Linked DNA regions of Homo sapiens: all the other regions are linked to region 2. The links come from fine-mapping of genetic effects on gene expression. A gene starts in region 2. Each other region holds a variant in brackets. All regions are shown on one strand. Distances are between the middles of the regions.

What was found.
Region 1: its variant is fine-mapped to the expression of CELSR1 in spleen (GTEx, PIP above 0.99).
Region 3: its variant is fine-mapped to the expression of CELSR1 in whole blood (TOPMed, PIP above 0.99). The same link has a PIP of 0.9 or more in blood mononuclear cells.
Region 4: its variant is fine-mapped to the expression of CELSR1 in subcutaneous fat (GTEx, PIP above 0.99).
Region 5: its variant is fine-mapped to the expression of CELSR1 in spleen (GTEx, PIP above 0.99).

The regions. Positions count from the first base shown.
Region 1 is chr22:46,383,657-46,387,680 of GRCh38, reverse strand. CELSR1 (cadherin EGF LAG seven-pass G-type receptor 1) reads left to right here. Exons shown (of 35, transcript NM_001378328.1): 19 at 1,096-1,279; 20 at 2,995-3,138. Among named protein-coding and RNA genes, the nearest start is that of TRMU, 50 kb to the right of the region's middle. RefSeq lists an enhancer at 341-1,540 and a silencer at 3,219-3,402. The variant C/T (reference allele first, on the strand shown) is at 1,761.
Region 2 is chr22:46,535,894-46,539,917 of GRCh38, reverse strand. It overlaps CELSR1 (cadherin EGF LAG seven-pass G-type receptor 1), which reads left to right and starts at 2,298. Exons shown (of 35, transcript NM_001378328.1): 1 at 2,298-4,024. The coding sequence starts at 2,748.
Region 3 is chr22:46,365,140-46,369,163 of GRCh38, reverse strand. CELSR1 (cadherin EGF LAG seven-pass G-type receptor 1) reads left to right here. Exons shown (of 35, transcript NM_001378328.1): 28 at 1,309-1,435; 29 at 2,046-2,171; 30 at 2,684-2,778; 31 at 3,475-3,578; 32 at 3,784-3,933. Among named protein-coding and RNA genes, the nearest start is that of TRMU, 31 kb to the right of the region's middle. RefSeq lists an enhancer at 1,199-1,258. The variant T/C (reference allele first, on the strand shown) is at 1,571.
Region 4 is chr22:46,511,691-46,515,714 of GRCh38, reverse strand. All of the region lies in intron 1 of CELSR1 (cadherin EGF LAG seven-pass G-type receptor 1), which reads left to right. Among named protein-coding and RNA genes, the nearest start is that of CELSR1, 24 kb to the left of the region's middle. RefSeq lists enhancers at 528-1,444, 3,946-4,024. The variant C/G (reference allele first, on the strand shown) is at 1,996.
Region 5 is chr22:46,615,902-46,619,925 of GRCh38, reverse strand. It overlaps a transcript of GRAMD4 not described here. Among named protein-coding and RNA genes, the nearest start is that of GRAMD4, 2.5 kb to the left of the region's middle. RefSeq lists an enhancer at 741-1,508. The variant G/A (reference allele first, on the strand shown) is at 2,499.

The DNA of each region.
Region 1 (4,024 bases), 150 kb after region 2:
CACACATTAAAAAATGACTTCTGGCCGGGCGCGGTCGCTCACGCCTGTAATCCCAGCACTTTGGGAGGCCGAGATGGGCAGATTGCCTGAGCCCAGGAGTTCGAGACCAGCCTGGGCAACATGGTGAAACCCTGTCTCTTCTAAAATATGAAAAAAATCAGCTGGGCGGGGTGGTGGGAGGCTGAGGCACGAGAATTGCTTGAACCCGGGAGGCAGAGGCTGCAGTGAGCCAAGACTGTGCCACTGCACTCCAGGCTGGACAACAAAGTGAAACTCTGTCTCAAAAAACAAAAACAAAACAAACAAACAAAAAGACTTCCTTATCTATTTGAATTCAACTTTGATTAATGTTTGATCCTATTTATAAACTTAGACCATGAAATTCCCCTAAGTATTTTAAATGGAATTAATATATGTCATGTAGTTGATTTTTTGTTTTGTATTTCAATTGTTCGGCTAGCAAACAGACCTTCCAAGCATTTAAGCAGTGCTTGTACATCTAGTAAATTAAGCTAAGAATATGAAGCATCTTTAATTCTCTAGATTTTAATATACTTTGTGAGCTTAGTAACATTTTTTTATTCCTCTTAAGATAAACTTTTTGAAAAAATATTTGGGAACTAGGCCAGGCGTGGTGGCTCACGCCTGTAATCCCAGCACTTTGGGAGGCCGAGGCAGGTGAATCACCTGAGGTCAGGAGTTCAAAACCAGCCTGGCCAACATGGTGAAGCCCCGTCTCTACTAAAAATACAAAAATTAGCCGGGTGTGGTGGCACATGTGTGCCTGTAATCCCAGCTACTCGGGAGGTTGAAGCAAGAGAATTCCTTGAACCCAGGAGGCGGAGGTTGCAGTGAGCCGAGATGACACCACTGCATTCCAGCCTGGGCGACAAGAGCGGAAGTGTGTCTCAAAAAAAAACACAAAAAACAACAAAAAACAAAAAACAACTAATATTAAAGAGCACAGTCTAAAGTGTAGGGCTGGAATGAATGAATGAGCCCACTAGGCAAGCAAAGGCTTTCAGGGCAGGTGTCCCTCCGTCCCACGAGCCAGGCCTCCGCAGGCTGAGTACTGAGTGCTGTCTGTCTGACCAGGACGTCATCCACTCGGGCAGCGCCCTCCTGGCCCCAGCCACCAGGGCGGCGTGGGAGCAGATCCAGCGGAGCGAGGGCGGCACGGCACAGCTGCTCCGGCGCCTCGAGGGCTACTTCAGCAACGTGGCACGCAACGTGCGGCGGACGTACCTGCGGCCCTTCGTCATCGTCACCGCCAACATGAGTAAGGCGCTGGCTGCGTTGGGGGTGGAACCCTGCTACCATCAGGGGTGTGCCCCAGAGCTAGGCCCCCATGGGGTGAAGCAGGTGGGCTCCCGGCCCCCCCTTGGCCATGCTCTTAGAAAAATGATTGTGAGGCCGGGCACAGTGGCTCATACCTGTAATCCCAGCACTTTGGGAGATCGGGACAGGCAGACCACATGAGGTCAGGAGTTGGAGACCAGCCTGGGCAAAATGGTGAAACCCCATCTCTACTAAAAATACAAAAAGTAGCCAGGTGTGGTGGTGCATGCCTGTAATCCCAGCTACTCAGGAGGCTGAGGAAGGAGAATCACTTGAACCTGGGAGGCAGAGGTTGCAGTGAGCTGAGATTGCGCCATTGCACTCCAGCATGGGTGACAGAGCGAGACTCCATCTCAAAAAAAAAAAAGCCGGGCGCGGTGGCTCACGCCTGTAATCCCAGCAATTTGGGAGGCCAAGGTGGG[C/T]GGATCACAGGGTCAGGAGATCAAGACCATCCTGGCTAACATGGTGAAACCCCGTCTCTACTAAAAATACAAAAAAGTAGCCGGTCGTGGTGGTGGGCGTTTGTAGTCCCAGCTACTCGGGAGGCTGAGGCAGGAGAATGGCGTGAACCCGGGAAGCGGAGCTTGCAGTGAGCCGAGATCATGCCACTGCACTCCAGCCTGGGCGAGAGAGCCAGACTCCGTCTCAAAAAAAAAAAAAAAAAAAAATATTCGGCAGGTAGGCCTCTGTTTCCTCATCTGTAAATGGAGCCTTTGGGAAGACAGTCTGTGATGACGTACCCGTGGCTCCCAGGGGACAGGTCCCGGGCTAGGGAGATGTTGGGCCATGATCTTGGGGGTCCGGCAGGGCTTCCAAACCCTCAGGTGTGAGACTCTAGAAGGGTGGGTGTCGAGGACCCCGCCTCACTCCAGGCTCACTGTAGACAGGTGTAAGTACAGGCGGGATGCAGGAAGTTGGAAGTCAGTTCTGTTCTAAAGATGGTCAGTCAGCTGGGCGTGGTAGTTCACACCTGTAATCCCAGCACTGGGAGGCTGAGATGGGCAGATTGCTTGAGCCCAGGAGTTCGAAACCAGCCAGGCGCCATAGTGAGACCCTGTCTCTATTAAAAATAAAAAATAAAAATTAGCCAGGTGTGGTAGCATGCTCCTGTATTCCCAGCTACTTGAGGCTGAGGTGGGAGGATCGCTTGAGCGCAGGAGGACGAGGCTACAGTGAGCTGAGATTGTGCTACTGCACTCCAGCCTGGGTGATAGAGTGAGATCCTGTCTCAAAAATAAATATAAGTAAATAGGCTGGGCGTGGTGGCTCATGCCTGTAATCCCAGCACTTTGGAAAGCCGGGGCATGCAAATTACTTGAGGTCAGGAGTTTGAGACCAGCCTGGCCGACATGATGAAATCCCATCTCTACCAAAAATACAAAAAATTAGCCAGGCGTGGTGGTGCCTGCCTGTAATCCCAGCTACTTGGGAGGCTGAGGCAGGAGATATTGCTTGAATCTGGGAGGCGGAGGTTGCAGTGAGCTGAGATTGCGCTACTGCACTCCAGCCTGGGAGACACTGCGAGACTCCACCTCAAAAATAAATAAATAAATATGGCCAGCCAGCGTCAGTGTGACAGTTGTGGTCATTTTGAAAACAGCAGGGGTTCAAGAAAGCCCTGGGAGTTATGTCTGATTAAAGGAACTGTCCCCCCAGTTCTTGCTGTCGACATCTTTGACAAGTTCAACTTTACGGGAGCCAGGGTCCCGCGATTCGACACCATCCATGAAGAGTTCCCCAGGGAGCTGGAGTCCTCCGTCTCCTTCCCAGCCGACTTCTTCAGACCACCTGAAGAAAAAGGTAAAACCGCTTAGAAACCTGCTGCTGCCCTCGGAGTCCCCAGCGTTCAGGGAGGGGAGGGCCCCGCTGCGGGCATCGCAGGACCTGCGCACTGAAGATCTGGGCCAGAGTGTTCCGAGTGCTCTCTGGTGCCAGGTCCTGTTGGTGACAGCAGGTTGTTTTGTTCAAGTGCTCAGGTACAGGCTGAACATCCTAATCCTGAAATCTGAAATGCCCCAGAACCTGAACCTTCTTGAGCACCAACCTGACACTTAAAGGAAATGCTCATTGGAGCGTAAGCATGAAACAATAAAAAAATCAAAATCCAGGCCAGGCGCGGCGGCTCACGCCTGTAATCCCAGCACTTTGGGAGGCCGAGGCGGGCAGATCACCTGAGGTCAGGAGTTCGAGACCAGCCTGGCCAACGTGGTAAAACCCCGTCTCTACTAAAAAATACAAAAAATAGCCAGCTGCGGTGGCGGGCGCCTGTAATCCCAGCTACTCAGGAGGCTGAGGCATGAGAATTGCTTGAGCCCACGAGGCAGAGGTTGTAGTGAGCCGAGATATGCCAGCCTGGTAAGACTCCGTCTCAAAAAAAAAAAATTCCAAAATGTTCCCAAGCATTTCAGCTGAGGGATACTCAGCCATGTAATTGATAATGTCAGAAAGAAAAGAGAACTGAAATTTGTATGTGAGCTGGTTGTCTTTGGTGTGCAGTGAAAAGCTGCTTCTAGCTGGGCGCAGTGGCTCATGCCTGTAACCCCAACACTTTGGGAGGCCGACACAGGGAGGATTGCTTGAGCCCAGAAATTCAGAACCAACCTGGGCAACATAGAGAAACTCCATCTCTACTAAAGAAGTTTTTTTTAATTACCTGGGCATGGTGGCGCATGCCTGTAGTCCCACC
Region 2 (4,024 bases):
AGTGAAACTCTGTCTCAAAAAAACAAAACAAAACAAAACAAAACAAAACAAAAAAAAACAAAAACTGCCGACTCTAGATGCAGGCATAGGGAAAAGTACGCAAATCATGTGTTTGGAGTTCAAAGTGTGATCATGAAGCCGACACTCTGGTAACCCTCAGGTCCAGAAGGGGATGCCCCTCCTCCCCCAGAGCCCTCCTGAATGTGCCCATAATCACCTCCTTGTTTTTCTTCATCTTTCCCCTATTTGTGCACACCTCTAAACGTTATGGTGGAGTCGGGCTTGCTGTCGGTCTAAGCGTGAATGGAATGATCTTTTGTCTTTGCTGGACATCCTGTTAGTGAGATTCATCCATCCTCCCCTGTCCCTAGGTGTTGGGCAGTCCCTGTGGTTACCTCGCAGCCTGCAGGTGCCTTATTCCAGAAAAGCAGGCCCACACCTGAACCCACTGGCTGCAGCTGAGTTTTGTTTATTTAAACCCAACCCACTCTGCTTAAAGCCTTATTGCAAAACAGGCACTCCTGGGGTTCTCTGGTTTTTCCTCCTGCCTGGGTCCCCTTCAGGTCCGCCCAGTAGCCTTCCACTGGGAGGCTCCGGGCTCAGGGACCCGCCCTGCCTTCCGGCCCCAGAACTCCTGTCCTTTCATCCTTCCCGGAAAAATCCCAGTGGAAGGGTATATGGCGGGTGGGGAGGTCCTGGACCGCTCACATTAAGGAGACGGACTTTTCTCCTTCCTCCCCTCCCTCCACACACACATTTCCCAACAGGACTCTCCAGTGGAAACCTCGAATTAAAAGGTTCCAAAGCAACTCCACCTTTTAGATCAATATAACGTGTTCAAATCCTTGCTACTGGGAAGAAAATGCTCACATTGGGCTTCAGCACAAAGACACTGTTTCAGCAGCTTTGAGCGAAGTTGGCTGAGTATGCGTGTGACACACACACAGACACATCGCTCCGGGGGAGAAACCCTTCCGGTTCTCCACAGCCGCCCACGGTCCTCGTTGAGACTGGACTCATCTCAGCTCAGCTCAGAGATTTGGCTGCAGGATCCGACCCTCCCTTGCCAAAAAGACCCGTTCTAGGGGTGACTGCGCATTACTCCCACCCCCACCGCTCCGACCGGCCCCAGGAGAAGCCCTTCTAGGAGAGAAGAGGCGACCCCCACCTACCGTCCCCGACCACTGGGAGGCCTAAGGGCTGCACTGGACTCCGGCGCCCCGAGCGCCACCAAGGGAGTGCGCGCCCTTCCCAGCCGCTGGTGGCACAGTCCCAAAGCCCCGCCCATGCGGGGGGTCGCCAAGTCCTAAGCCTCCACCCCCTTTATCCCTGTGCCCCATCCGGAGGCAGGTGTACCCGTCACGCAAACCTAAAGCTGCCCCCGGCCCCCCGTGGTTCCCCGCAGGAGGCGGGGGTGTGTGTCACTTTTCTGAAAGCTCTAAGGTCTCTGCCCCCCGCCCCCCGCTGTCCTCCGTAGGAGGCTGGGCAGGGGCTGTGGCACAGCTCTAAATCCCTGCGGGTGCTTGCTTGCCCCAGGCAGCTTCCAGGACCCGCAGCCCCCCGCCTTCCCCGCAACCCGCTTCGGGAGGAGCCGGACGCTCGGGGATTCCGCGATGCGTCCGCGAACGCTCGGGTCGGGCCGCACGCGGGAGATGAGCGCGCCTCCGCCGTCCTCTCCAAATCCCTTATGTCAACCGGGGTTTTCTTCTTTCATTTAAAAGTTGCGCTTTAAACCAAGTGGGACGCAGATCCGGTAGCTGCCTATTGGGCTTCAAAGTCCAGGGAGTTTTAGTCGGGGTGAAGCATTTTAGCCTCCGTGCGTCTTGCTGTAAAATGGGTAACCCTCCTCGACAGCCTCCGCAGTCCTTAATGGGTGGGGGGGGGCTCCCCGGCCTCTCGGCCCCAGTCCTCCGCCCCCGGGTCCTACCCGCGCGGCACTCCTGGCGGCGGTCTCCGTGGATCTGTTCTGCCGGGGTGGGGAGCCAGGCTCTGAGCCGCGGCCCCGAGCCCGAGGTGCGGAGCCACCGCCCCACGGGTAGCGGCCACCGGGGGCCCCAGCCCCACCTTTCCCGGCCCTGTTGCCTCGGCCCCGCCCCACCGGGAGGCTGGGTGGGGAGGCCTCCGGGGAGTAGGGCCCCAGTCCCCGTCCCGGCCGCGCCCTCGCGTCTCCATAGCGATCCTCTCGGCGCGCACCTCCGAGCCGGCTCCCCCCGGGGCCGAACAATACGCCGCTGGGCCGGGGGCGGGGCGGGGCCGGGCCGGGGGCGGGGAGAGCGCGGGCGGAGTGGGCGCGGGCCAAGCGCACCGCCCAGGCAGCAGCCGGCCGCCGGGGTCTGCGCGGCGCGGAGCTGCCCAGCCCGCTCCGGGAACTCAGCCCCCGCCCCGCGCCGGGCCCGCCCCGCTTCCCACGCCCGTCCGGCCGAGCCCGCGCCGGAGCCACCTGGAGCCGCCTGGAGCCGCCGCCGCCGCCGCAGGTTGATGCGCGGCGCCCTCCCGGGACGCGCGGAGGAGCCATCTTGAAACCAACTTCGCAAACTTTCGCAAAGTGCTCTCGAAGTGGAAGCTGCGGGGGAGGCCGGGCGCGTGGTCCCCACAGTCCCCGCCAGGGCCCCCGGGGAGGCGGGACGCGGACCGCCCCGAGGGCCGGGCGCCCGGGAGCCGCTCCCCGGCCTCGCCGGGTGGATGCGGAGGCGCGCCGGGTGCATGGATTGTGTTCGGGCGCCCGGCTCGGGCTCGGGCTCCGGGCCATGGCGCCGCCGCCGCCGCCCGTGCTGCCCGTGCTGCTGCTCCTGGCCGCCGCCGCCGCCCTGCCGGCGATGGGGCTGCGAGCGGCCGCCTGGGAGCCGCGCGTACCCGGCGGGACCCGCGCCTTCGCCCTCCGGCCCGGCTGTACCTACGCGGTGGGCGCCGCTTGCACGCCCCGGGCGCCGCGGGAGCTGCTGGACGTGGGCCGCGATGGGCGGCTGGCAGGACGTCGGCGCGTCTCGGGCGCGGGGCGCCCGCTGCCGCTGCAAGTCCGCTTGGTGGCCCGCAGTGCCCCGACGGCGCTGAGCCGCCGCCTGCGGGCGCGCACGCACCTTCCCGGCTGCGGAGCCCGTGCCCGGCTCTGCGGAACCGGTGCCCGGCTCTGCGGGGCGCTCTGCTTCCCCGTCCCCGGCGGCTGCGCGGCCGCGCAGCATTCGGCGCTCGCAGCTCCGACCACCTTACCCGCCTGCCGCTGCCCGCCGCGCCCCAGGCCCCGCTGTCCCGGCCGTCCCATCTGCCTGCCGCCGGGCGGCTCGGTCCGCCTGCGTCTGCTGTGCGCCCTGCGGCGCGCGGCTGGCGCCGTCCGGGTGGGACTGGCGCTGGAGGCCGCCACCGCGGGGACGCCCTCCGCGTCGCCATCCCCATCGCCGCCCCTGCCGCCGAACTTGCCCGAAGCCCGGGCGGGGCCGGCGCGACGGGCCCGGCGGGGCACGAGCGGCAGAGGGAGCCTGAAGTTTCCGATGCCCAACTACCAGGTGGCGTTGTTTGAGAACGAACCGGCGGGCACCCTCATCCTCCAGCTGCACGCGCACTACACCATCGAGGGCGAGGAGGAGCGCGTGAGCTATTACATGGAGGGGCTGTTCGACGAGCGCTCCCGGGGCTACTTCCGAATCGACTCTGCCACGGGCGCCGTGAGCACGGACAGCGTACTGGACCGCGAGACCAAGGAGACGCACGTCCTCAGGGTGAAAGCCGTGGACTACAGTACGCCGCCGCGCTCGGCCACCACCTACATCACTGTCTTGGTCAAAGACACCAACGACCACAGCCCGGTCTTCGAGCAGTCGGAGTACCGCGAGCGCGTGCGGGAGAACCTGGAGGTGGGCTACGAGGTGCTGACCATCCGCGCCAGCGACCGCGACTCGCCCATCAACGCCAACTTGCGTTACCGCGTGTTGGGGGGCGCGTGGGACGTCTTCCAGCTCAACGAGAGCTCTGGCGTGGTGAGCACACGGGCGGTGCTGGACCGGGAGGAGGCGGCCGAGTACCAGCTCCT
Region 3 (4,024 bases), 170 kb after region 2:
CCTGACCGGCCAGCCATGTCGGCTGGGCCCTGAGACCCCGACGTCCAGTCTCTGCGGGGTGGGGCCCCATGAGAGCGTGTAGGCCTCATGGAGGAGGGCTGGGGGCAGCCTGGGTGAGCCCCAGGGCTCCAGAGAGGTTTGCCACGTTGCACCTGCAGGGGCTGGGGGAGGTTAGCTGAGGGGAGGGGGCTGGAGGAGGTTAGCTGAAGGGAGGGGGCTGGCAGCCAGTCCTGGGCCTCAGTCCCTCCCGCCTGGCACAGAAGTATTGGGCTGTCTGGAATCCCCAGAGTGGAGATGGGTGGGGTGGGGGAGATGAAACTTTCTGGTGGGTGGTGAGGGTGTTGCTGAGGCCACTGGAGGGGAGGAGACCCCCCCACCCCACTGTCAGAGGGTGCAGTGGAACAGGGGCCCAGCACAGAGGGAACCTCCAGTGTTCTAGGGAGGAGAGGGGACCTTCGAGGCCCCAAAGGAGCAGGTGGCACCGCGGGAGGACTCAGCACAGCGTCCAGGAGCCACGACAGGGTCAGGAGGGGTTGACGGGGGCATCTGTCAGACAACAAGGCCAGCCCCTGGTGACCTGGTAGCTGAGATGGGACTGAGCCAGGGATGGGCGAAGGGATAATGCTTGCGCAGGGGCTGGGTGTCAGGAGGAGTGTGAGGCTCCCGGCCCGGGAGGAGAGAGCCGAGTCTGAAGGGGGGTAGGGCAGAGAGGGAGAGGCAGTGAGTGGCCTGGAAGGCCGGATATGGGGGTGCACGGGGGGTCTGGGGCCTTGTCAGTTCCTCGTCTTCAGTGCCATCCACGACCTGTGGACCTTGCGGGCTCTGTCACCCGGATTCACTCCATCCCCTCTGAACCCTGGGAGGGGATGCGCCTTTGTCTTCCCCTTGTACACATGGGGAGACTGAGGCAGAGCTCAGGAAGCTGATTGCAGGGTCACAGCTCAAGGGCAGGTCCTGGGCTCTTCCTCTTGCCTCTCCACAGGGTATCTCACGGGAGCTAGTGCAGCCATGGGCATGGCTCAGGCCCCTTGGCCTGGTGTAGTCCTCACAGCTCCTGTTTTCTCATTTGCTTCCTAATGTATTCCACCACCACCCCCACTAACACGAGCTCTGTCTGGTTCCCGGATGAGTCCGTACCTGGCTACGAGGGGAGGAAGGGAGCAAGGTGGATGATGGCTGGGTGGACAGGTGGACGGACAGATAGATGGGCGGACGGGCAGGCAGGTGGACAGGTGGACGTGCAGAGAGGGAGGGAGGAAGGGAGCAGGTGGTGGCGATGGGCACAGGCCTGATCCTGCCCTCCCGCAGCTCCCTGCTGAGGACCGCATTCCTCCTGCTGCTGCTCATCAGCGCCACCTGGCTGCTGGGGCTGCTGGCTGTGAACCGCGATGCACTGAGCTTTCACTACCTCTTCGCCATCTTCAGCGGCTTACAGGTAGGTGACGGCCGAGTTGCCCGCGGGACCCCTGCCTGGCCGCCGTGACACCATCGCTGTGATGCGAAGCAGTGGAGGCCTCTGCGGTCCCAAACCAGCCCTGCCTGGGTCCCGCGTGGGGGCCTCCTGTGGCTG[T/C]GAGGACTCAGTCCCTTGTGCAGCCGGCACGGGGGCTGGTGCCTCCTCCCCACTGTGTCTGGGGACGATGACCCTAGTGCCAGGCCAGCACAAGTCCACTTGTGTCTCCAGGGAACAGAAGTGGCCATTTCTAGTCATACCAAGGGCCACACAGCAAGTGGACTTACGACACAGTGGGGACCCCAGAGGGGCCCCAAGGACTGTGGAAGGAGTGCCCAGAAGACTGGCCTGAGCCGGGGCCCTCACTGCCTCCAGCACACCGGGGGTCTGGCCCAGGCATCTCAGTTTCTGAGCTCCCCCACCTGGCCTCCAGATAGCAGCAGTCCCTGAGGAGGGGAGGCCTGGCCGTGTCCTGGGCCGTGTGGCCGGACATGTTGTGTGCACTCAAGGCTGTATGCGCATCTGTGCTGGGGCGCCTAAGGGCAGGTGCCTAGGGAGGCAGCAGCAGGTGCTGACCCCACCTTCCTCCCTCCAGGGCCCCTTCGTCCTCCTTTTCCACTGCGTGCTCAACCAGGAGGTCCGGAAGCACCTGAAGGGCGTGCTCGGCGGGAGGAAGCTGCACCTGGAGGACTCCGCCACCACCAGGGCCACCCTGCTGACGGTAGGAGGCGCCGGGGACACCGCGGGACTGGGGGCTGGGCGGCATCTCGAGGGGCGGGGGAGGGTGATCGAGCCTCAGCCCCAGTCCTGCGGCCCGTATGCCCCTCACGGTGGGGATGGCAGAGCCGCCCGCGGTGCACGGTGTGGCTGCCGCGTCAGAACCAGAAAGTGACAGAATCGGCCAGATGGGGCCTGGGTCGCATCCTAACCCTGCTCTTCCAGGCCTTAGAAAGAGAGGGTCAGGACCACCGAGGATCCTGACCAGAAGCAGTGGCCGTAGGGAGGGCGGCAGCCCCTGACCACAGCGCGGGCCAGGATGTGCTTCCCTCAGCTGCCAGGAGGCTCTCGTTTGCAGTGAGGGTTGACTGCTTGGGGCCAGCTCCTCCTGTGTGCCAGGCAGGGGCCCAGCCAGGGTGTGGGTGTGGGGGGCTTGCCGTGGGGACAGAGTCATTCCCCGTGGTGGTCATGTGGTGGCCACCACTTGGCAGTGACCAGCCCCTCCCCTCCCTTCAGCGCTCCCTCAACTGCAACACCACCTTCGGTGACGGGCCTGACATGCTGCGCACAGACTTGGGCGAGTCCACCGCCTCGCTGGACAGCATCGTCAGGTCAGGCCGCAGCTCCGGGTTCGGGGAGGTGGCTCTCGAACTCCCTCAGGTTTTGCCCCTGCCACCCCAACCTGTGTCCTGCCATTCAACCAACATCACCTTCCACCCCCAACTTTCCACCCGCACCTTCTTCCCACCCGCAACTTCCCTCCCTGCCCCGCACCTTCCCTCCCCGCCTCGCACCTTCCCTTCCCCTGCACCTTCCCCCAACAACCTTTCCCCCACCAACTTCCCCCAACCAACCTTTTCCCGTGCAACCTTCCCCCCCGCACCTTCCCCGCACTGCACCTTCCCCCCGCAGCCTTCCCCCCTCCACCTTCCCCCTCCACCTTTCCCCTGACAACCTTTCCCCCCAACCTTTCCCCCAGCACCTTCCCCCCAACCTTTCCCCCCACCACCTTCCCCCCCAGCCTTTCCCCCCACCACCTTTCCCCCACCCAGCCTTTCCCCCCACCACCTTCCCCCACCCAACCTTTCCCCCCACCACCTTCCCCCACCCAACCTTTCCACCCACCACCTTCCCCCCACCCAACCTTTCCCCCCACCACCTTTCCCCCACATACTCGGGAGGCTGTTTTGTCTGTGCTGTTGTTGGGAACACAGAAGGGGTAGGGGCAGAGAATCTTCCAGAGAACTTTCCAGCACCTCCTGTTCCCTGACGGATGATACTGAGCCCACCCTCCCTGGCCTCTCTAGGGATGAAGGGATCCAGAAGCTCGGCGTGTCCTCTGGGCTGGTGAGGGGCAGCCACGGAGAGCCAGACGCGTCCCTCATGCCCAGGAGCTGCAAGGATCCCCCTGGTATGGCTTCCCTGGAGGGGGAGGACCCCGTGGGTTGTTTTTCCCACGTCCCTTCGGTCACTGGACAGACTGCCCCTGAAGAAGCACTAGCAGCCTCGCCATGCTCAGCGTCAGCATGCCAGGGGCCCAGTGGCTCTGCTTGGCCCTCGGTGGGACTCCCTCACCTCCCAGGGCCTGAGCCTCCCTGTCCCCCGCGCATCCACAGGCCACGATTCCGACTCAGATAGCGAGCTGTCCCTGGATGAGCAGAGCAGCTCTTACGCCTCCTCACACTCGTCAGACAGCGAGGACGATGGGGTGGGAGCTGAGGAAAAATGGGACCCGGCCAGGGGCGCCGTCCACAGCACCCCCAAAGGTGAGTGTGTGGGGCACATTGGGCCAGGCTGGGCTGTGGACAGCGGGCTCGGGGCAGGCCTTGGCTATGGCTGGGTCCCTTCCTCCCAGGA
Region 4 (4,024 bases), 24 kb after region 2:
TGGGGAGGCCCCAGTGACTTAGTCATCCCCTGATCCCCCAGCAGGACTTACAAAGCCTCAGCCTCTGTGCCTTTGAGTCCCCAGCCCTGAGCACTGTGTGACTGAGGCCCGTCCTATTGGCTGTGTCCTCCACCTCCAGCCCCCGGGGTGCCCTGCAGCTTGTGCACACCCACTCTGCATCAGGCTCAGCCCTCCCAGAGCTGACTTCACCATGGAGACACAGACTGTCATGCTTTCCTATTTTCTGTCTAAGGCCTTCATAGAGTTTGTGTTTAAGGTGAGCCTCTTTCCCTTTACCCTGATGAAACATGTGCAAACCTTCCTACCTGGGGGTCATGTGACTTGGGAGCATCCACTCACAAGCTAGCCTTTGTGATACGCACTGAGACCGCTGGGCTGTGGTTCCAGCTGTGCTGCCGACAGCTGTGCAGCTCTCCCCAGGAGGGCCCAGGTGGGGGTCACTTGCCTGGCTGTGGGCTGGGAGTGGTGGGCAGGGCCATGAGGTCCCAGAGTGTGGCCAGAGGGCTGATGCACGGGTGGAATGGCTCCTACTGCCCATGCTGTGTCCCATGAGTGTCCCCGGGGGGGGTTGGCTCTGCTGGGACGCTGAGGGGGGTCCACGCTGCCAGACAGCCTTTTCTCAGCCCAGGCTGAAGCTGAGGGGGTGCTGGGGGTGCTTTCTAGAAGGGGCTGGCGAGGACTAGGCTGGTTGCCAGGGCCCAAGAGGGCTGGGGTTTGGACAGAGCCACTTTTGTGGGGAGGCATGGAGTTTGGAGCGGATGCCAGCTGCAAAGAGCACGTCTGAGGTGCTCATCCCCCAGGCCTGAGGGCTGGATTGACGGCGGGTACGGACAGGCATCCCTGGGGTGGGAAGGGGTGGCAGCTCCAGAGCTTTTCCCGCAGTGACTTGTGCTTGCTGACTTGGGAATGACTCAGCGAGGCAGGACAGGGCTGGGCAATTCATTCAGAAACACCCCTCTTATTCCAGAGCCCAGCCGTGAGCCTCGGCCCTGCAGCCCCGGCTCCCTCCGGGGAGTGACTCTTCTCTTTGATGCTGGGAGGAGGGACCACAGAGTCTGGGGAGGTCTGGGGAGGTGCTGAGAGGGGCCATTGCATTATCCCTGACTTTCAGCAAGGGTCTGGCGGTGATACACAGATGCTGTTGGGGTGTCCTCAGGCCACATCCTTCATGCCCCCACTCCCCACCTCACCAGGACTGGTTCTGACTGACTGGCAGCCAGAGGTGTGTGGCCTTGGGCCCCCGGGGATCAGAGTGCAGGTGGACCTGACTCCAGCCCTCACCTGGATGGACCGTCGGGGCCTGGTGAAACGTCTGGGTGGAAGAGCTTCAGCATCACATAGGCCCGCAGTTGAGGTGTGGCTTAAATAATCACCCTTCAGAAATGCCGGCTCCATTGTGAGTAGTCTCGCTTACTGGGTTTTTGACACTGTCATCTCGAGGACTGGGTGGGATTCCCCTGGTGTTGGAGCCTACCTGGGTGGGAAAGACCCACAGTCAAGGTCAGATGATTCTGACCCCAGGAACCTTTCCCAGGTGGGTGCTGGGATGTGAGAAAAGTGTAGACAAGACAAGTAAAGAGCTGTGAAAAATTACAAATGAGGGCCGGGTGCGGTGGCTCGTGCCTGTAATACCAGCACTTTGGGAGGGTGAGGCGGGTGGATCATGAGGTCAGGAGATCGAGACCATCCTGGCCAACAAGGTGAGACCCCGTCTCTACTAAGAATACAAAAATTAGCTGGGTGTGGATGCGTGCACCTGTAGTCCCAGCTACTCGGGGGGGGCTGAGGCAGGAGAATGGCGTGAACCCCGGGAGGCAGAGGCTGCAGTGAGCTGAGATTGTGCCACTGCACTCCAGCCTGGGCGACAGAGCAAGACTCCGTCTCAAAACAACAACAACAACAAAAAGTATTAATAAACTTATCTATGGCTTTGAGCTTCTGGGCCATATTCCAACCAGTATTTATTAGGAGGCT[C/G]TCTGCGCAGGTGAGTGTTGGCTCTGGGGATGTAGTGACGGAGTAAACAGAAGTGTTGCTGCCCGTAGGAAGTGCACACTGCAGGGCTGGGACTCCTATCCCTGGTGCACGAGATAAGGGCCAATTATAACAGTGTACAGGCAGTGTCTCATTATGGTAAACCTAAGGCCTCCCCACATTGATCTTGGCTCCTAAGATTTTATGGTTGAGAATATTGCTTGAAATACTCAAGTTGCAACTTGAAGTGTGTTGGATTGCCTCCCTTTTAGTGTACATGTTTTTGTGTGACTGCATTGGACTTCTTGGTATGGTCAGGTATGTGGGCTGGTTTAAGTGTCCTGTAAAACTCAGGACCCCACGTGGGGAATGCTTTTGAACTTGTATTTTTAATCCTCTTGCACACTTACAGGCCATGTTGCCTCTCGTGATCATGAACACTCTTCCCTGTGTTGCCTGATAGTAGAGGAATAAAGGCCGTAGTTGGATACCGCCTTTCCTTGAGTGTTTCCTTCATGTGTTCTGGCTCACTGCAGCAGCGTTGAGCCCACATGGCCTAGTCCCCAGGTGTATTGTCCCCAGTCGCGTGATTTTGAGAGGCGCCCGTGATGGTGGTCGCGGGTTTGAATCTCGCCCCAGAAGTCACTCACTGGTTAAATGGCCTCCTATTCACTCCACTGGGGAGGGATGGATTCCCGTCCTAGGATGATGGGGATTGCTGAGCACCTGACACTGGACAGATGAGGTCAGCAGCAGTGCGTGAGTAGCACAGAGGCCCAGCCTGGAGGAGGACGTCGCCTGCCATGCGGGGCCACCCGGGGCAGCACTCAGGAGCAGAGGACAGCCAGGTGCTGTGGGGGACAAGCCCGGACCCGGAAGGAACAAGAGGGTGGGGGGCCCCTGGTTCTTGCAGGGGCACATGGGTAGCTTGTCTGAATAATTCCTCTGGATGGCAGGGAACGGAAACCCGCTACCCTCTATAAGCAGGAGCTGTGCCTGATCCCCGTGACAAGAAGGGTTGACTGTGGAGGGATCTTATCCGAAGGAGCAGAGTGGGGCGGGGGACCTGTGGTGAGGCCATTTGAGGCCTCCTGGCTTCAGCAGATGTCAAGGCAATGCATAGTATTGGGCCTTGATTTTTTGTTGTTGTTGAGATGGAGTCTCACTCTTTCACCCAGGCTGGAGTGCAGTGGTGTGATCTCGGCTCACTGAAACCTCCGCCTCCCGGGTTCAAGCAATTCTCGTGCCTCAGCCTTCTACGTAGCTGGGATTATAGGTGTACACCACCACACCGGGCTAATTTTTTTGTATTTTAGTAGAGATGGGGTTTCACCATATTGGCCAGGATGGTCTCGATCTCCTGACCTCATGTGATCCGCCTGCCTTGGCCTCCCAAAGTGCTGGGATTACAGGCATGTGCCACCGCACCTGGCCAGTATTGGACCTTGATTTGGGGGCTGACACCTCAGTCCCTGAGTGCTTCTTGGTCCTCCTCTGCAAATCCGGGACACCTGCCCCTAGCTGTGAGCCCTCGAGGGCAGCACGCTTAGTAAGGGCTTATGAGCGCCGCCGTCACTCTTGCTGCTGCTGTGTTTGCCACACTGAGAGCTCCTGGCAGCGTGGGGGCCACTGGGCTGGGATCTGGGGGTGGGCTCGGGGCACTTCAGGACCCCAGAACCTGAATGACTTGCTGCGTTTCTCGGAGGCAGCATGAAGGACATCCTGGCAGAATTGTAAGAGCTGACACCAGGAGAAAAGCAGGAGGTGACCGTCATGTCATCCGGGCAGGGGATGCTCTTACCTAGTGCCTGGGATGAGCAGTGAGCAGAGAGGCGGGTCATTGTGTCTAATGACCGAGGGATGTTTACAGAGCTGGTAGCCCCCGTCAGTGGGAAAAGTGGCTTTTCCTGGGGCTGCCCCATACCAGGGAGACACCTCCTTCCCTCATCTCACCCTCTTACTCTTCTTCTGCCCCCTACTCTCCCTGCCTTCCCCACTGTTGGCCTTCAGCACATCACCCCCTGGGGTGTCC
Region 5 (4,024 bases), 80 kb before region 2:
CTTTCCCACAGCCGCCAGCCCTCCTAAGCAATGTCCCTGGGGGACTCGCAGATGTTGAGCGACACAGACACACCTCCCCCACCCCCACTGCAGTGGGCCCCAGCCCCCACCTGGCCCTCCTCCAAGTCTCAGTCCTCTAGGGAAGGTAGCCCCTAAACCTCACTGTCAGAAAGGCCTGGATGGAGGTTAGACCAGCAGCTGGACAGCCAACCTGGGCAGCTGAAGAGGACGTGAGGATGGGGCAGCTGGCAGACTCCAGGGCTTTGCAGAGTGAACAGGAGGACCGGGGGCGGCCAGCAAAGAAGGCCTGGTTCTACCAATACCCCATCGCCAGCCAGGCACCAGGGCTCAGGCCTGTAATCCCAGCACTTTGAGAGGCTGAGGTGGGCAATGCAGTGACACAGAAAGTGAAATAAGAACATGAGCCAGCGTGGTGGTACGTGCCTACAGTCCCAGTTGCTCAGAAGGTTGAGGCAGGAGGATCGCCTGGGAACCTGGGAGTTTGAGGCTGCGGTGAACCACGATCGTACCACTGCACTCCAGCCTGGGTGAGGGCCAGACCTTGTCTCTAAGAACAAAACAAAAACATCCACCCCAATGTCCCCATGCTTACAGCCACATACTTGCACCTCCCTAACTCCTGATGCAAAGAGGCCCAAGGACCCAGCACACACACAGCTCCCTGGGCCCTCTGGGGTCCTGAGACTGCAGATCCTGCCCTTCCAGCCCGTGCCCGACCTTGGCCACTATTGTTCCAACATCAGCCTCAAGAGGTCGGCTCACAACTGATGACATGTGTGCTGCCCCAAACTCAAGGCTTGTCCAGGAGTTTCATCCCCTCCCTGGATTCAGGCCTCAGTCCTGCCAGCTGGGCACAGTCAGGCGGCCTCAAATGCTGATGTCCGTATCCGGGTGTTTGGCTGCTCTCAACCCTGCCCCCTGACCTGGCCTCCCTGCAGGCTCCAAGCCGGACAGCTCACCAGTATCTCAACTATGCCACGCCTGGCACAGACTCGGGTCTCAAGGGGCACTCTGACTGGATGGCACCGTGTCCACCAGCTGTCTGGGTGAAACCCTCAAGAGCCCTTGATAGCCCCGTTCCTCACTCCACTGCCAACCTGCAGCGCACGCCGGCCGCACGCCTCCAGACGGGGCTGCACATCTGTCCACCTCTCCCCACGACCCCAGCCTGGTCCAGGCAGCCGCGTGCCTCCCCTCTCCCCACCACCCCAGCCTGGTCCAGGCAGCCGCGTGCCTCCCGAAGCCTTCTCCACATGGCAAGCATGGTGAGGCCTTCAAAGGCAAAATCAGCCTCTGCAGCGCCCCTGCCAAAGTTCTCCAGGGGCTTCCACGCACCCGGGTCAACACGGCTGCTCCCCCGACACCCTCATCAGCTCTGGCTCATCTAGGCTTGGCTGCAGCTCTGCCGACCCCCTTTGCAACCCTCCGACCACCGCCTCTGTCCCCACTGCAGGGCCCGACACGTTTGGCTCCGGGACGTCGCTCATTTGCCCCATTCCCTAGGCGCCGCCCGCTGTCATTCCACCATCCTGTTTGGTTTGACGTGGGGTCCTTGGATTGCCCTGATGGCTTCCTTGTTTAGCGCTTGTGCCTCCAGTCCTGCTTGGTTAGAACCCGCCTGGTGCTCCCCCGGGGCAGGGGCTGTGTCTGGCTAAGTCTCCAGGGGCTCGGCTCTGCCGGTGATGCTCAGGTGGACTCGAGCTGCAGGCACCCGAGTCTCCCTCTGCAGAGCTTGGCACGTGGTGGGCAGTGACAAACACTTGTTCAGAGAGTGAGGGAGCGACACACAAAGGCAGCCCAGATGCCACGGCTGGGGGGTCCCCGCCAGCCTGAGCCCGCAGCCACCAGCTGAGCTTTCTTTCCTCTGCCAGAGGCCTCAAGAGAAAGGGACACCCATGGACTAGGGACACCCATGGACTCTGCCTTGGGCCCTGCCAAAGCACAGCGTCCCTGAATACACAAAAACTTTTAACTACAAGCCTTCAGTGATCTGGGATGTTTCTCCAGGAAGAAACCTGAATTCCTTCCCTTGGCAAAGTATCTTCAGGCTTGAGTCATACGAGGGTCAGGCTGGAACCCCATGTGGGGAGCTGAGCCTTCTGCACTGTGACAGGGAAGCCACCCAGGGGGGCCAGGGAGCGGGCCCAGGGCTAAGCACACCCTGGGGTGCTAATGCCAGCACGGTGTATGGCCCGCTCTGGGGCCACTTGCCAGCGTGGCCCAGGAGAGACAGTCAGGAAGACTGGGAGGGCCAGGAGATGCCTACGTGAGTCTCCGCTTCTTCCTCTGTGTGCTGGGATCCTGCCCAGGCCTGGGGAGGAAGGAGCTGGTTAATGTTTAAGGACCCAACACAGAGGAACCTACACGCACAAGGGAACCTACACGCACAAGGGAACCTACACACGGGGAAACCTACACGCACAGGGGAACCTACACACAGGGGAACCTACACGTATGGGGGGAACCTACACCCAGGG[G/A]AACCTACACACAGGGGAACCTGCAAGCACAGGGGAAGCTGCACACACAGGGGAACCCGCACACATGGGAGAACCTACACACGGGGGAACCTACATGCTTAGGGGAACGTACACACAGGGGAACCTACATGCACAGCAGAACCTACACACGGGGGAACCCACAAGCACAGGGGAACCTACACACTGGGGAACTTACACATGGGGGAACCCACACGCACAGGGGAACCTACACACGGAGGAACCTACACGCACAGGGGAACCTACACACGGGGGAACCTACACACACAGGGGAACCTACACATGGGGGAACCTACACGGACAGGGGAACTTACACATGGGGGAACCCACACGCACAGGGGAACCTACACACGGGGGAACCCACACGCACAGGGGAACCTACACACGGGGGAACCCACACGCACAGGGGAACCTACACACGGGGGAACCTACACGCACAGGGGAACCTACACACGGGGGAACCTACACGCACAGGGGAACCTATACGCACAGGGGAACCTACACACGGGGGAAACTACACGCACAGGGGAACCTACACACGGGGGAACCTACACACAGGGGAACGTACACACAGGGGAACGTACACACAGGGGAACCTACACACACAGGGGAACCTACACACAGGGGAACCTGCACGCACAGGGGAAGCCACACACACAGGGGAACCTGCACACACGGGGGAACCTACACGCACGGGGGAACCTACACGCACAGGGGAACCTACACGCACAGGGGAACCTACACACAGGGGAACGTACACACAGGGGAACGTACACACAGGGGAACCTACACACACAGGGGAACCTACACACAGGGGAACCTGCACGCACAGGGGAAGCCGCACACACAGGGGAACCTGCACACACGGGGGAACCTACACAAGGGGGAACCTACACGCTTGGGGGAACCTACACACGGGGGAACCGACACGCACAGGGGAACCTACACACGGGGGAACCTACACGCACAGGGGAACCTACTCACGGGGGAACCTACACGCACAGGGGAACCTACACGCACAGGGGAACCTACACACAGGGGAACGTACACACAGGGGAACGTACACACAGGGGAACCTACACACACAGGGGAACCTACACACAGGGGAAGCCACACACACAGGGGAACCTGCACACACGGGGGAACCTACACGCACGGGGGAACCTACACGCACAGGGGAACCTACACGCACAGGGGAACGTACATACAGGGGAACGTACACACAGGGGAACGTACACACAGGGGAACCTACACACACAGGGGAACCTACACACAGGGGAACCTGCACGCACAGGGGAACCTACACAAGGGGGAACCTACACGCTTGGGGGAACCTACACACGGGGGAACCGACACGCACAGGGGAACCTACACATGGGGGAACCAACACGCACAGCAGAACCTACACACGGGGGAACCCACAAGCACAGGGGAACCTACACAGGGGGGAACTTACACATGGGGGAACCCACACGCACAGGGGAACCTACACACGGGGGAACCTACAC